Linked DNA regions of Homo sapiens: regions 1, 2 and 4 are each reported to be linked to region 3. The links are microRNA targets in miRTarBase. Many come from high-throughput screens and were not tested one by one. Region 3 holds a microRNA gene; each other region holds the end of a gene's coding sequence.
What was found. Region 3 holds the annotated microRNA hsa-miR-548ah-5p (AAAAGUGAUUGCAGUGUUUG, at 1,664-1,683, shown strand). A microRNA usually pairs through its seed, bases 2 to 8, with sites in the 3' UTR of a target mRNA and lowers its output. Matches are read on the target gene's strand: a 7mer-m8 pairs with bases 2 to 8, a 7mer-A1 pairs with bases 2 to 7 and ends in A, and an 8mer does both.

Region 1 (3,000 bases), not on the chromosome of region 3:
CTTATTCTTTATAAGAGAAAATCTGTGTATACTGTTACAGCTGAATGGCATTTGGTATATGGCATGCCAGTCTTCCACATGTACTGATGTTTAAGAAAGGCTTGGATCCAGTGTGTATTCTGGATGTCGGGGGAAAAAAAGGCTTGGAAACCAGGTTATCCTATTATTTAAAATATTAAAAATTACATTATTTTAGAAACAGAGAACCAAATACAAGCTGATACTACCATAAAATTACCATAAAATAGTTTTGCTCTTTTTTCACTGTTTACACCTTTCCTCCCTATATTAAGTTGTTAAGTACTTGAGAAACGTACTTAACACTGAACTTCCCAATATATTTGGGAAGGTATGATATGAATGTTAAGTATAAAATAATACGGGTAGTTAATGTTAAAAGAACTCAGAGGAAATTTCCCCGCAGGGTAACTACAAAGATGTTTTCTATGCTGCATTTGTCCCGAGATGTTTATGTAACTCATTCCTCTATCTCAATCATTACATACCCCTCATTACAAACACTCCTATGTGCTCTCTGAGCTCATCTGAAGAGAACAGAATTGAGTCGATGATTTGAGTTATGATTTTCTCCATTCTCCTAGGGACTGTACATAATTAGTACCATTCTAGATGACACAGGGACTTAGGGCTTTTTCTCCTGCAAACCTAATTGAGAAAGCCTGTGATAGACACTAGCACACCTCCTTCTCTTTCCCCCTACTCCCAGACTGCTCTGGCCTCAAACCCATCCTATCTATTTCACCAATGGCCAACACTGTCCTGTCTGCACCCAGAGTGAGAAGCTCCCACAGGGAAAAGTTATTTTAAAATATCCAACTTTATATATTTAAAGCCTCATATTTCCTCATAAGCTACTATTTTTCTCTCCCATTCCTACCTTTGTCAAGCTCAGCATATAACAAGTCATCTTTTTGTGACATCAAAGTCTTCAAAGTCTTTCTGGAGATCTAGAATCTACAATTTCTAAATATTTTGCATAACGCATAAAGTGCATATAAATTGAGTTATCCTATATCTGTGAACTGATGAGAATTATTCTGCTCAAACAGGTGGTGAAAACCTTTGCTTGACTCTCCTAAAAGGATAAACAAATACTAAAGAAAGATGGCTTTCAACTACAGTGAGGTTCTTGTGATATGTGCTACTGGAAAAAGTACATTTTTACCAAGCCATAGCAAATAATTTTAAAAGAATATCATTCCACAGTATATGGATCTTTTTCATTATACTGCAATGTAATTTGAAACTAGATTATTTTCCTTGCTAACACTGAGAAGCAACAATTTGTTTAGATTATCTAGTGATGACCTTTTTCCTCTTAAAGGTGACAATGATTCTAAAACAAGAACATCTGAAAACATTTGAAAAAACTATCCCAACACTTCAATACATTGGAACAGTAGTCATATCACACTATACTATAGACCATGGGTTGATAAATTTTTTCCATAAACAGACAGACAGTAAATATCAGGCTTTGTGGGCTATAGTTTCTGTGGCAGCTACTCTGCCACAGAAAAGCAGCCATAGACAAGTAAAAGAATGATCTTGGTTGTGTTTCAACAAACTTTATTTATGAACACTAAATATTCATGTTAATTTTCAAGTATCATAAAAGTCTTTAAAAAAAAACATTTAAAATTATAAACACAATTCCTAGCTCACAGGCCATAAAAAGCAGGCAGCAGGCTGGATTTGATCCACAGGCCATAGTTGGCTGTCTCTTAAACAGGCTTTTATACGTTATGCAAAGTGTTTCAAATTCCAGAGACTTTGGAGACTTTTCGTTTTTTAGATTTCTCATTTTAAAACACACATAATACAAGTTTTCTTTCTGGATCAATATACTCACGAGAGAAAATAATTCAGAAAAAAATAAAATTCCTTACTTAAAAAAAGGGAAAAGCTATAGAACAAATGTTTCGTCTTAAAATATATTTAGGAAATGTAAAATTAAAGATTAAAAATTTTATTCTATGCAACATAAAATAATATGCATAAATCTGGCACATAATTTCTTTGTTTTTACTTTAGAAAAAAGACAGTAAGAAAAAAGTTTATAAATTTCTCAGTCCCTTTTATACAAAGTTGCAACTAAAACCAGCAATCACTTATATGTACAACCATCAACTCTGAATACAATGTGAATTATACCTAGGAACTGTAATTTACCTAGATGAGTTCTGCCTGCTTTATGAAAAACACACACTTATATCACAGAACACCGTGGCTTCTACAATTTGTAACAATTTTGAAAACGAAACTCCTGCCTCCATAATATAAGGAAACAAGAGTACTCTTTCCATAGTCATCATCCTGTATAAAAAAAACTTCATAGTCTGATTTACCTTTGTCAAAGGTAAAATGATTCACATTTGCTTGGATTACTCTGATCCTCAGTAGTTCCTAAACACAAAATAAAGTTTGCATGAACCTTTATCTGGGTTTTCCAAAGCAAGTATTATGCTGGCAGAAGTCCATGAGCTGAATAAAAAGATACTAAATATAAAAGGTTTACCAACTTTATCCTTTCTTAATTTTACGATAGCTTCAGGTATTGAGACCTAACTGGTTTCCTGTGCCTATCCATTGTGAACACATCTCAATCTTCTACTTTTAACACTCCTCAGCACCATATTTTCGTTGTTTCTTTATTGTGCGACGTAGAAGATCCTTTCGTCCAACTTCAATCATTTGTTCTTCCCAAGACTTCATTTCATTATGATAACGAGTTTCGTCCTCTTTAGCATGCTGAATATATAACTGAGAAAAAGCATAACTGTTAAAATGATTTACTTATTTTTTGAGATAAAATGATTATTTAAAATAGCAATTAATTTCTGGAATGCTTCTGTATATACTTTAGAAATTACATTACCATTCTACATGTATAAAGGCAGACTGGAGAAGAAATATTTTCATGAGATAAAAGTTAGATGATGAAAATGTAAGAGATAGACTGTTATCTCTTTGAATGAA
Region 2 (3,000 bases), not on the chromosome of region 3:
TTCCCCTCCTATTTCCCCAGGTACAGAGCATGCCAGCGCCTCAGCTAATGGGGTAAGTGCAGTGTTGGAGCTAAGGAGGGTGTGGGGTCTGCACGAACTACAGACCAGACGTCTTCAGATGCCCACGGCCCGGCCTCAGGAGCCTGGGTCTTTTCTCCTGGTGCCTCGAGCAGCATTTCCCAACCCTTCCTGCTGGGCGGAATCCCCTGTAGAGTTTGCTAAGACGCAGCCCCAGACAGTCTGGTCTGTGATGGGGCCAGGGAATCTGCATTTTAATATCCGCTCTCTCCCCCCTGCCCCACGCCCCTTCAATTCCACCCATGGCCACACCTTGAGAAGCACTGCCCTGGCTTCCAGGGAGAGAGGAGGGGACGGGCCTGCAGTTCTTTGCACATGGGGCTTCAGTGGGAAGATGTTTGATTTTGTTCAAAAGAGCCCCAAGGCTAAAATTTGAAAACCCTCTTCTAGCATGTCTCCTATTCAGCTGTGAGCAGAGAGAACAGCTCTTCCCAGGATCCACAGACAGAGGGCACAAGGTGACAGCGTCGGGACTGAGAGGGGAGAGAGACTGGAGCTGGCAAGGACGTGGGCCTCCAGAGTTGGACCCGACCCCAATGGATGAAGACCCCCTCCAAAGAGACCAGCCTCCCTCCCTGTGCCAGACCTCAAAACGACGGGGGCAGGTGCAAGTTCATAGGTCTCCAAGACCACCCTCCTTTCATTTGCTAGAAGGACTCACTAGACTCAGGAAAGCTGTTAGGCTCACAGTTACAGTTTATTACAGTAAAAGGACAGAGATTAAGATCAGCAAAGGGAGGAGGTGCACAGCACACGTTCCACGACAGATGAGGCGACGGCTTCCATCTGCCCTCTCCCAGTGGAGCCATATAGGCAGCACCTGATTCTCACAGCAACATGTGACAACATGCAAGAAGTACTGCCAATACTGCCAACCAGAGCAGCTCACTCGAGATCTTTGTGTCCAGAGTTTTTTGTTTGTCTTGAGACAGGGTCTGGCTCTGTTGGCAGACTAGAGTACAGTGGTGAGATCACAGTTCATTGCAGCCTTGACTTCTCAACGCCAAGTCATCCTCCCACCTCAGCCTCCTGAGTAGCTATGACTACAGGTATGTGCCACCACGTCTGGCTAATCTTTTTATTATTTGTAAAGTCGAGGTTTCCCTGTGTTGCCCAGGCTGGTCTTGAACTCTTGGCTCCAAGTGATACTTCTGCCTTGGCCTCCCAAAGTGCTGAATTAAGCAGCTCACCATCCACACGGCTGACCTCATACATCAAGCCAATACCGTGTGGCCCAAGACCCCCACCATAAATCACATCATTAGCATGAACCACCCAGAGTGGCCCAAGACTCCAAGATCAGCTACCAGGCAGGATATTCCAAGGGCTTAGAGATGAATGCCCAGGAGCTGAGGATAAAGGGCCCGATCTTTCTTTGGGCAAGGTTAAGCCTTTACTGCATAGCAGACCACACAGAAGGGTGTGGGCCACCAGAGAATTTTGGTAAAAATTTGGCCTCTGGCCTTGAGCTTCTAAATCTCTGTATCCGTCAGATCTCTGTGGTTACAAGAAACAGCCACTGACCCTGGTCACCAGAGGCTGCAATTCAGGCCGCAAGCAGCTGCCTGGGGGGTGTCCAAGGAGCAGAGAAAACTACTAGATGTGAACTTGAAGAAGGTTGTCAGCTGCAGCCACTTTCTGCCAGCATCTGCAGCCACTTTCTGCCAGCATCTGCAGCCAGCAAGCTGGGACTGGCAGGAAATAACCCACAAAAGAAGCAAATGCAATTTCCAACACAAGGGGGAAGGGATGCAGGGGGAGGCAGCGCTGCAGTTGCTCAGGACACGCTCCTATAGGACCAAGATGGATGCGACCCAAGACCCAGGAGGCCCAGCTGCTCAGTGCAACTGACAAGTTAAAAAGGTCTATGATCTTGAGGGCAGACAGCAGAATTCCTCTTATAAAGAAAACTGTTTGGGAAAATACGTTGAGGGAGAGAAGACCTTGGGCCAAGATGCTAAATGGGAATGCAAAGCTTGAGCTGCTCTGCAAGAGAAAATAAGCAGGACAGAGGATTTGCTCTGGACAGAGATGGAAGAGCCGGGAACAGAGAAGTGTGGGGAAGAGATAGGAACCAGCAGGATGGCAGGGGCAAAGGGCTCAAGGGTGAGGAGGCCAGTGGGACCCCACAGAGTTGGGGAGATAAAGGAACATTGGTTGCTTTGGTGGCACGTAAGCTCCTTGTCTGTCTCCAGCACCCAGAATCTCATTAAAGCTTATTTATTGTACCTCCAGCGGCTGTGTGCAATGGGGTCTTTTGTGGAAATCAAGGAGCAGACAGGTTTCATGTGTACTGTCACCACGTGGGATGGAACCAGAGGCATGGAAGCAAGACGCTAAATGAAGAGGGCCATAAGGGCTGGGATTCCCAGGCACCTTAGGAACAGCTTGTCTTTTTTTTTTTCCTCTCCAAAAAAAATGTTTAAGGGACGGTGTCTCCTGTCACCCAGGCTGGAGTGCAATGGCACGATCATAGCTCATTGCAGCCTCTAACTCCGGGGCTCAAGCAATCCTCCCACCTCAGCCTACCAAGTAGCTGTGACCACAGCTGCCCCTCACCATGCTAAGCTAATTTTTTTAATTAGATAGTACATAAACGTCCCAAAATTAGAAGATAAAAAGACATGAGGGATCCATTCTAATTTGTGTTTGGAGTGTAATGGTCCAGCTCCATTCTTCTGCACATGGATATCCAGTTTTACACAACACTGTGAATGTAATGAATGCCACTGAATCATACACTCAAAAATAGCTAAAATGGCAAATTGTCTGTTATCTCTTTTTAACCACCATTTTTGAAAATTAATTATACCAAAAAACCATTGAATAGTGCACTTTATTTATTTATTTATTTGTTTATTTATTTATTTATTTTAGAAATAAGAGTCTCACTTTGTTGCCCAGGCTGGAGTGCAGTGGCGT
Region 3 (3,000 bases):
GATGTCTGAGATTCTTCCTTCTGTCTGGACCTCTAGAGACCTCGAAATTGAGCCAGGCCAGACCTACTCCAGTGACCTTCTCCTAGGGTCTCAAATGGTGCAGTGGAGCCAGGGTTCCCTGAGCCCTTTGACATTCTCCTCACTTAGCTCACACACTTTCCCTCTCCTCCCTGAGGCTAGAAGAGAAATCAGAACTTGGTCCTCACAGCTTGACTTGCCACCATCTTTTCCCTCATTTCCACAAGTTGCTGGGATCTTGAGGGCTGGGTTTTCTCACTATTTCTCACTCTTCTCTGTGCTTCCCTACTTCTATAACTTCAAGCTTCTTGTCTTAGTTGGGAGGGGTATCTTCTTTGCACGATGGGAAAATTTTGGCAATTAGAATCCTCTAGGCCTCACCCTGGATAGGTTACAATGGTTGTCAAAAGTGTGATCATGCCCAGGAACTTCTGGAAAATACAAATTCCCAGGCCCTGCTCTAAGCCTAATGAATTGGGAACTCTGGAGTTTGAGCCTAGCAATCTGATTTACCAAGTCTTCCCCATGATTCTGATGCACCCTAAAGAACCATGGCATTAAATATTTCAGCAAATTCTCTCTCTCCCTCTCTACCAACGCCTTTCTTACCATTTTTCATGCCTAAACTCTTATTAGACAGACCGGATACTCCCTCTTAATCTAATTGATTGATTAGCTACATAAACTCAAATCATTTTGTGATTAAAAAAAGAAATGTATAGCCTTAAAAGCAAAGGAAATTCTGATATATGCTACAACATGGATGAACCCTAAGGACATTATGCTAAGTGAAATAAGCCAGTCACAAAAAGACAAATACTGTAAATGATTCCACTTGTATAAGGTACCCAGGGTAGTCAAATTCATACACAAAAAATGTAGAATGGCAGTTGCCACAGGTTGGGGGAGGGGAGATTAGGGAGTTTTGTTGAGTAGGTACAGAGTTTCAGTTCTGCGAGATGAAAAGAGTTCTGGACATTGGATCTACAAAAATGGGAATATACTTAATGCCACTGAAGTGCACCCTTAAAAAACGGGTATACCAGCAAACCAAATTCAATAGTACACCAACAAGATCATTCATCACAACCAAGCGGGATTTATCTCTGGGATGCAAGGATGGCTCAACATATATAAATCAATCAATACTATATATCTTCTCAATAGAATGAAGAACAAAACCAGATGATCATTTCAAGTGAAGCTGAAAAAGCATTTGATCCTTTCATGATAAACATCCCTTCATGATAAAAGTCCTTCAAAAAACTGGGTATAGGAGAAACATACTTCAACATAATAAAAGCCATAGATGACAGACCCACAACTAGTATCACACTGAATGGGAAAAAAATTGAAAGCCTTTCCTCTAAGATCTGAAGCACAACAAGGCTACCCACTTTCACTACTGGTATTCAACATAGTACTGGAAGTCCTAGCTAGAGCAATTAGACAAGAGAAAGAAAAGGCATCCAAACTGAAAAGGAAGAAAGCAAATTATTTTTATTTGCAGATAAGATGATCTTATATTTGGAAAAACCTAAAGACTCCACCAAAAAAACTAGCAGAATTGATAAACAAATTCAGTCAAGTCACAGGATACAAAATCAACATACCAAAATCAGCAGCATTTCTATTAGGTTGGTGCAAAAGTGATTGCAGTGTTTGCCAATAAAAGTAATGACAAAAACTGCAGTTACTTTTGCACCAGCCCAATATATGCCAACAGTGAACAATCTGAACAAGAAATTTAAAAAGTAATCCCATTTACAATAGCCACAAATAAAATTAAATACCCAGGAATTAACCAAATAAGTGAAAGATCTCTATAATAAAAACTATTAATATAATACACTGATGAAAGGAGTTGAAGAAGATACAAAAAATGGAAAGATATTCCATGTTCACAAATTGCAAGAATCAATATTGTTAAACTTCTCAAAAGAAGACATATAAATGGCAAACAGATATATGAAAATGTGCTCAACATCATTGATTATTAGAGAAACGCAAATCTAAACTACAATGAGATATTATATCATCCCACCCCCGTTAAAATGGCTTATATCCAAAAGACAGGCAGTAACAAATCCTAGTGAGGATGTGGAGAAAAGGGAACCCTCGTACAGTGTTGGTAGGAATGCAAATTAGTACAACCACTACGGAGAACAGTTCAAGGTTTCTCAAAAACCTAAAAAGAAAGCTACCATACGATCCAGCAATCCCACTATGGGGTATATACCCCAAAGAAAGGAAATCAGTACCTCTAAGAGGTATCTGGACTCCTGTGTTTGTTGCAACATTCTTTACAATAGCTAAGATTTGGAAGCAACTTAAGTGTCCATCAACAGATGAATGGATAAAGAAAATGTGGTACTTACACACAATGGAATATTATTCAGCCATTTAAAAAAATGAGATCCTGCCATTTGCAACAACATAGATCAAACTGGAGATCACTATGTTAAGTGAATTGAGCCAGGCACAGAAAGACAAACTTTGCATATTCTCACTTGTTTGTGGGATCTAAAAATCAAAACAATGGAACTCATGGACACAGAGAGTAGAAGGATGGTTACAGAGGCTGGGAAGGGTAGTAGGAGGCTGGTGGGGAGGTAGGGATGGTTAATGCATACAAAAAGGTAGGATGACTAATACCTACTCTTTGATAGCACAACAAGGTGACTATAATCCATAATAATGTAATTGTACATTTAAAAATAACTAAAATCGTGTAGTTGGGTAGTTTGTAACACAAAAGATAATGGCTTGAGGAGATGGATACCCCATTCTTCATGATGTGATTATTATGTGTTGCATGCCTGTATCAAAACATCTCACGTACCCCATAAATGTATACACCTACTTTATAACCACAAAAATTAAAAATTAAAATGTTAAAATAAAAAATGGGTAAGATGGTAAATTTTGTTATAAATATTTTTAATTTTTAAATTAAATTTTTAAAAATAAAAATAAAGGACT
Region 4 (3,000 bases), not on the chromosome of region 3:
AACAAACAATAGGGATGTGGAGAGGATCTATACTCTCCTGAAATAGGTCTTTGTGTTTGAGAGTTCTTTATGTAAAATGTTTTGTGGTAATAATCTCACTATGGTATATAGAGGTAATTATCAATTGTTTTTAATTACTTGAATTAGTACTTGAACTTTATATGGAGATGATTTACATTATATGTGCATATAGTTTAAATCTTTAAATAATGAGAGTTTTTCATTGTAATTCTTTTTGTGTGTGTGTGTTTTTTTTTTTTCAGGAGAGAAATAGAAACAAACAATAACCGTATGAAGATGTCCTGTTAAATTTACAACACTAACGATGTAGACTCTGGAAATGCCTAATAAGTCAAAGAAGACGTATTAAAGCTCTTTTCTGCTTAAGGTGACATCTTTGAACACTTTAACACAAAGTTGACTCTTCTCGTAATGGTTTTCATCAGCGCATCTGCCCTTATACTCTTCACCAAACACACTTGAGAACTGTAACTTCGTCAAGCACTTTCTGTCCTGAAGCTTTTACCAGTATCTGCTGTCTTTTGTAATTATGCATCCTAGCTAAGGCACAGAAGACTGAATGAATGCAAGGATTCATTAACTCTTTGAATTTGTTAAATACTAACAGTTAACCATTAGAAGTGGTTCAATGATGTAAGAGTCACACTGCTTCAACTTTTTCTTTGTTGTAGTTTTTAAATTGTCGATTTTTAGCTATTTGACAGATTAAAAGCAAAATAATCATGCCATATTTAGTCCTGGAGTTCAAGTCTAAATGTTGATGTGAAAAATTATTGTAGTAAACTTTTAATATGGCAAAGCAACCTTAAGCTCTATTTTAGCCAAATGAAACATAATCTGAAATTATATTAGAACATTTCCCTTGTCTTCAAACTGTTTGGTGTAACAGAATATTGATATGCAGCTTGGTGGATTTCACCAGTTAATGCACATTCTTCTTCCCTCCTCCCCCCATTAATATGTATACTGAAAAATGTGCATTTGTCTGAGGAATTATTTTGTTTGCTACCACTTAATGAATCTCAAAATTTTGAGTAAATGTACCTCAGTCTAATCAGACTTTTTATGACCTTTATAACTACATTTAAAACCCTTAATTCCTATTTCTGGGTGTTTGCGAGCCTGATTGCTATCATGAAGTAAAAATTTATTACTCTAGGTATTCACTAGCTAAATAAACATAGTTCTTGTTTAGCAAGCATATGTTGTTCCTCAGCTCTTTTCTCCAGCTTTTGCAGTGTCCTGGCATCCTTAAAATACTTTGAAAATATGGCCTTGATCCATGGATTAAATCAGTATCTAAGTGAATGTGTTGATGTTTTATTGATCAGATCTATATAAGTGGGAATACAGCATATATCTGGATATTCTTATAGTTATCTTTTTAACATCTTATTTTTTTCATTAATTACATATCAACATTAATTTTGTATCTTGAAGCAAATTGATTTTGTATAATTAAATGTGTCAAGCATCTGTATTAATTGATTTGATGGCATAAGGTTATGAAAATAATGTACTGCCCCATGTATTACTGTTCCAAAAGGAGAAAGCTATGTAGAAAGATACATTAAGGGTGAAAATAGCAATACAGTAGATTTGAATACCTTGATGTTTTGCATTACTTCATTTATGTTTACATCATGTTTAGAAATGTTTTCATTTACTGTGGTCTTTGGTCACTTCAGCTCAAAGACCTAGTGATGGATATTTCTTTGAGGCTTTCATTTATATAATTTTATTTTGTACAATGTTTTTTTTAAATGTGCAAATACTGTATTCAAGTGAAAAAAATACAGTATTTGTAGATAACCATAGCTACTACACAGTTCTTCGGTAGTCCCAGTGTAGTTATATCAGTGTTTACTGAAGGGAACATCAAAATATTAATGGTATATTATAAAATAAAGACTTTCTTAAAGGAAAATTGCACCTATTTTACCTTTTTAAGAGTAAGCCATGAAATCTTGTAACATGTCTCTTAACTATTTATAATGAAAAGTGGCATTTGGGTATAGTCACCACAGCAATGTTCTACATCCCTAAGATTATCTAGGTAGGACATGTCAAAGATGACTGTTGTCATTCTGGAGGTCCTATTAGAGAATATTATAAAAGGGTGACCTTGTAGGAAGGATCTGAGTCCTCCCCCTGAGGTTCTCTTTTTCTTGGTGCTTTATTAGCAACTCTGGATATTTTTATAAAACTAGTTACATTATAAACGGTTTCAAACATGTTTAATTTACATTAGGTTTTTATGTAAGAGTGTCATGGAAGCACTCAGCAAGCAGGCTGATTGCAATAGACTCAGACATGCGAATAAATGTAATTGAGAGTCTATTCATGGTGAGGAGTACATCCCAGTGCCTTTAACCTGGATTTCTAATCTTAAGTGAAATGGGTGCAGCATTCCTTTGGAAAAAAAAATCTTTTTATTTTCAAGTGATAATTTTGTGTTTTTCTCATATAAGTTTTCTCCAGAGCACCCACCTTCTCTTCCTTCTTGGTCTGTCATTATATTGCAAAATATTTTTCCTCTGAATGAAATTATCACAGGTTGTCTCAAGCACAACCAACTGAATGTCTCTTAACTGTGGGGACCAAAAGGGAGAGAGCCTGGGGTCTACAAGAGGAGACACATCATCAAATGTTTGAATGATCACAAATTAAGACATTATCAGCCCAGTAAATTTCTTGCTTAATGTTTTTCCAAGTTCTGGCTTGAATATTTCTTATTAAAGCTATCTTATGTGGGTATTTTATTTTGAAAGGTATTATAGTTTGTATATTTAACAGTAAGGAGGAAACTGTAACCAAAATTAGTATTTCTCTATACGTATTGGTACTTGAAGATTCCTTTCAAAAGAAATCCAGCGTTTTCCTAATTTTAGTACTTAATTTCTCTTTTTAATTTAAGTGATCTTTCTAATTCGAAAGCTGTGTTCTTTTTGAATACCGTGCATGGGGGTTAAGCTGATG

Region 1: miRTarBase lists TFAM as a target of hsa-miR-548ah-5p. Seed matches in the 3' UTR shown: 7mer-A1 at 1,006-1,012.
Region 2: miRTarBase lists PVR as a target of hsa-miR-548ah-5p. Seed matches in the 3' UTR shown: 7mer-A1 at 2,911-2,917 and 7mer-m8 at 2,967-2,973.
Region 4: the mRNA of YTHDF3 is a reported target of hsa-miR-548ah-5p. Seed matches in the 3' UTR shown: 7mer-A1 at 403-409.

What each region holds. Positions count from the first base shown.
Region 1 is chr10:58,394,712-58,397,711 of GRCh38, reverse strand. TFAM (transcription factor A, mitochondrial) reads right to left here. Exons shown (of 7, transcript NM_003201.3): 7 at 1-2,784. The coding sequence ends at 2,638. Among named protein-coding and RNA genes, the nearest start is that of TFAM, 11 kb to the right of the region's middle.
Region 2 is chr19:44,661,272-44,664,271 of GRCh38, forward strand. It overlaps PVR (PVR cell adhesion molecule), which reads left to right. Exons shown (of 8, transcript NM_006505.5): 7 at 21-52; 8 at 469-3,000. The coding sequence ends at 540. Among named protein-coding and RNA genes, the nearest start is that of CEACAM19, 8.7 kb to the right of the region's middle.
Region 3 is chr4:76,573,898-76,576,897 of GRCh38, forward strand. MIR548AH (microRNA 548ah) reads left to right here and starts at 1,654; the gene lies at 1,654-1,729. The region is part of intron 2 of SHROOM3 (shroom family member 3); the gene reads left to right.
Region 4 is chr8:63,209,420-63,212,419 of GRCh38, forward strand. YTHDF3 (YTH N6-methyladenosine RNA binding protein F3) reads left to right here. Exons shown (of 5, transcript NM_152758.6): 5 at 264-3,000. The coding sequence ends at 287. Among named protein-coding and RNA genes, the nearest start is that of YTHDF3, 42 kb to the left of the region's middle.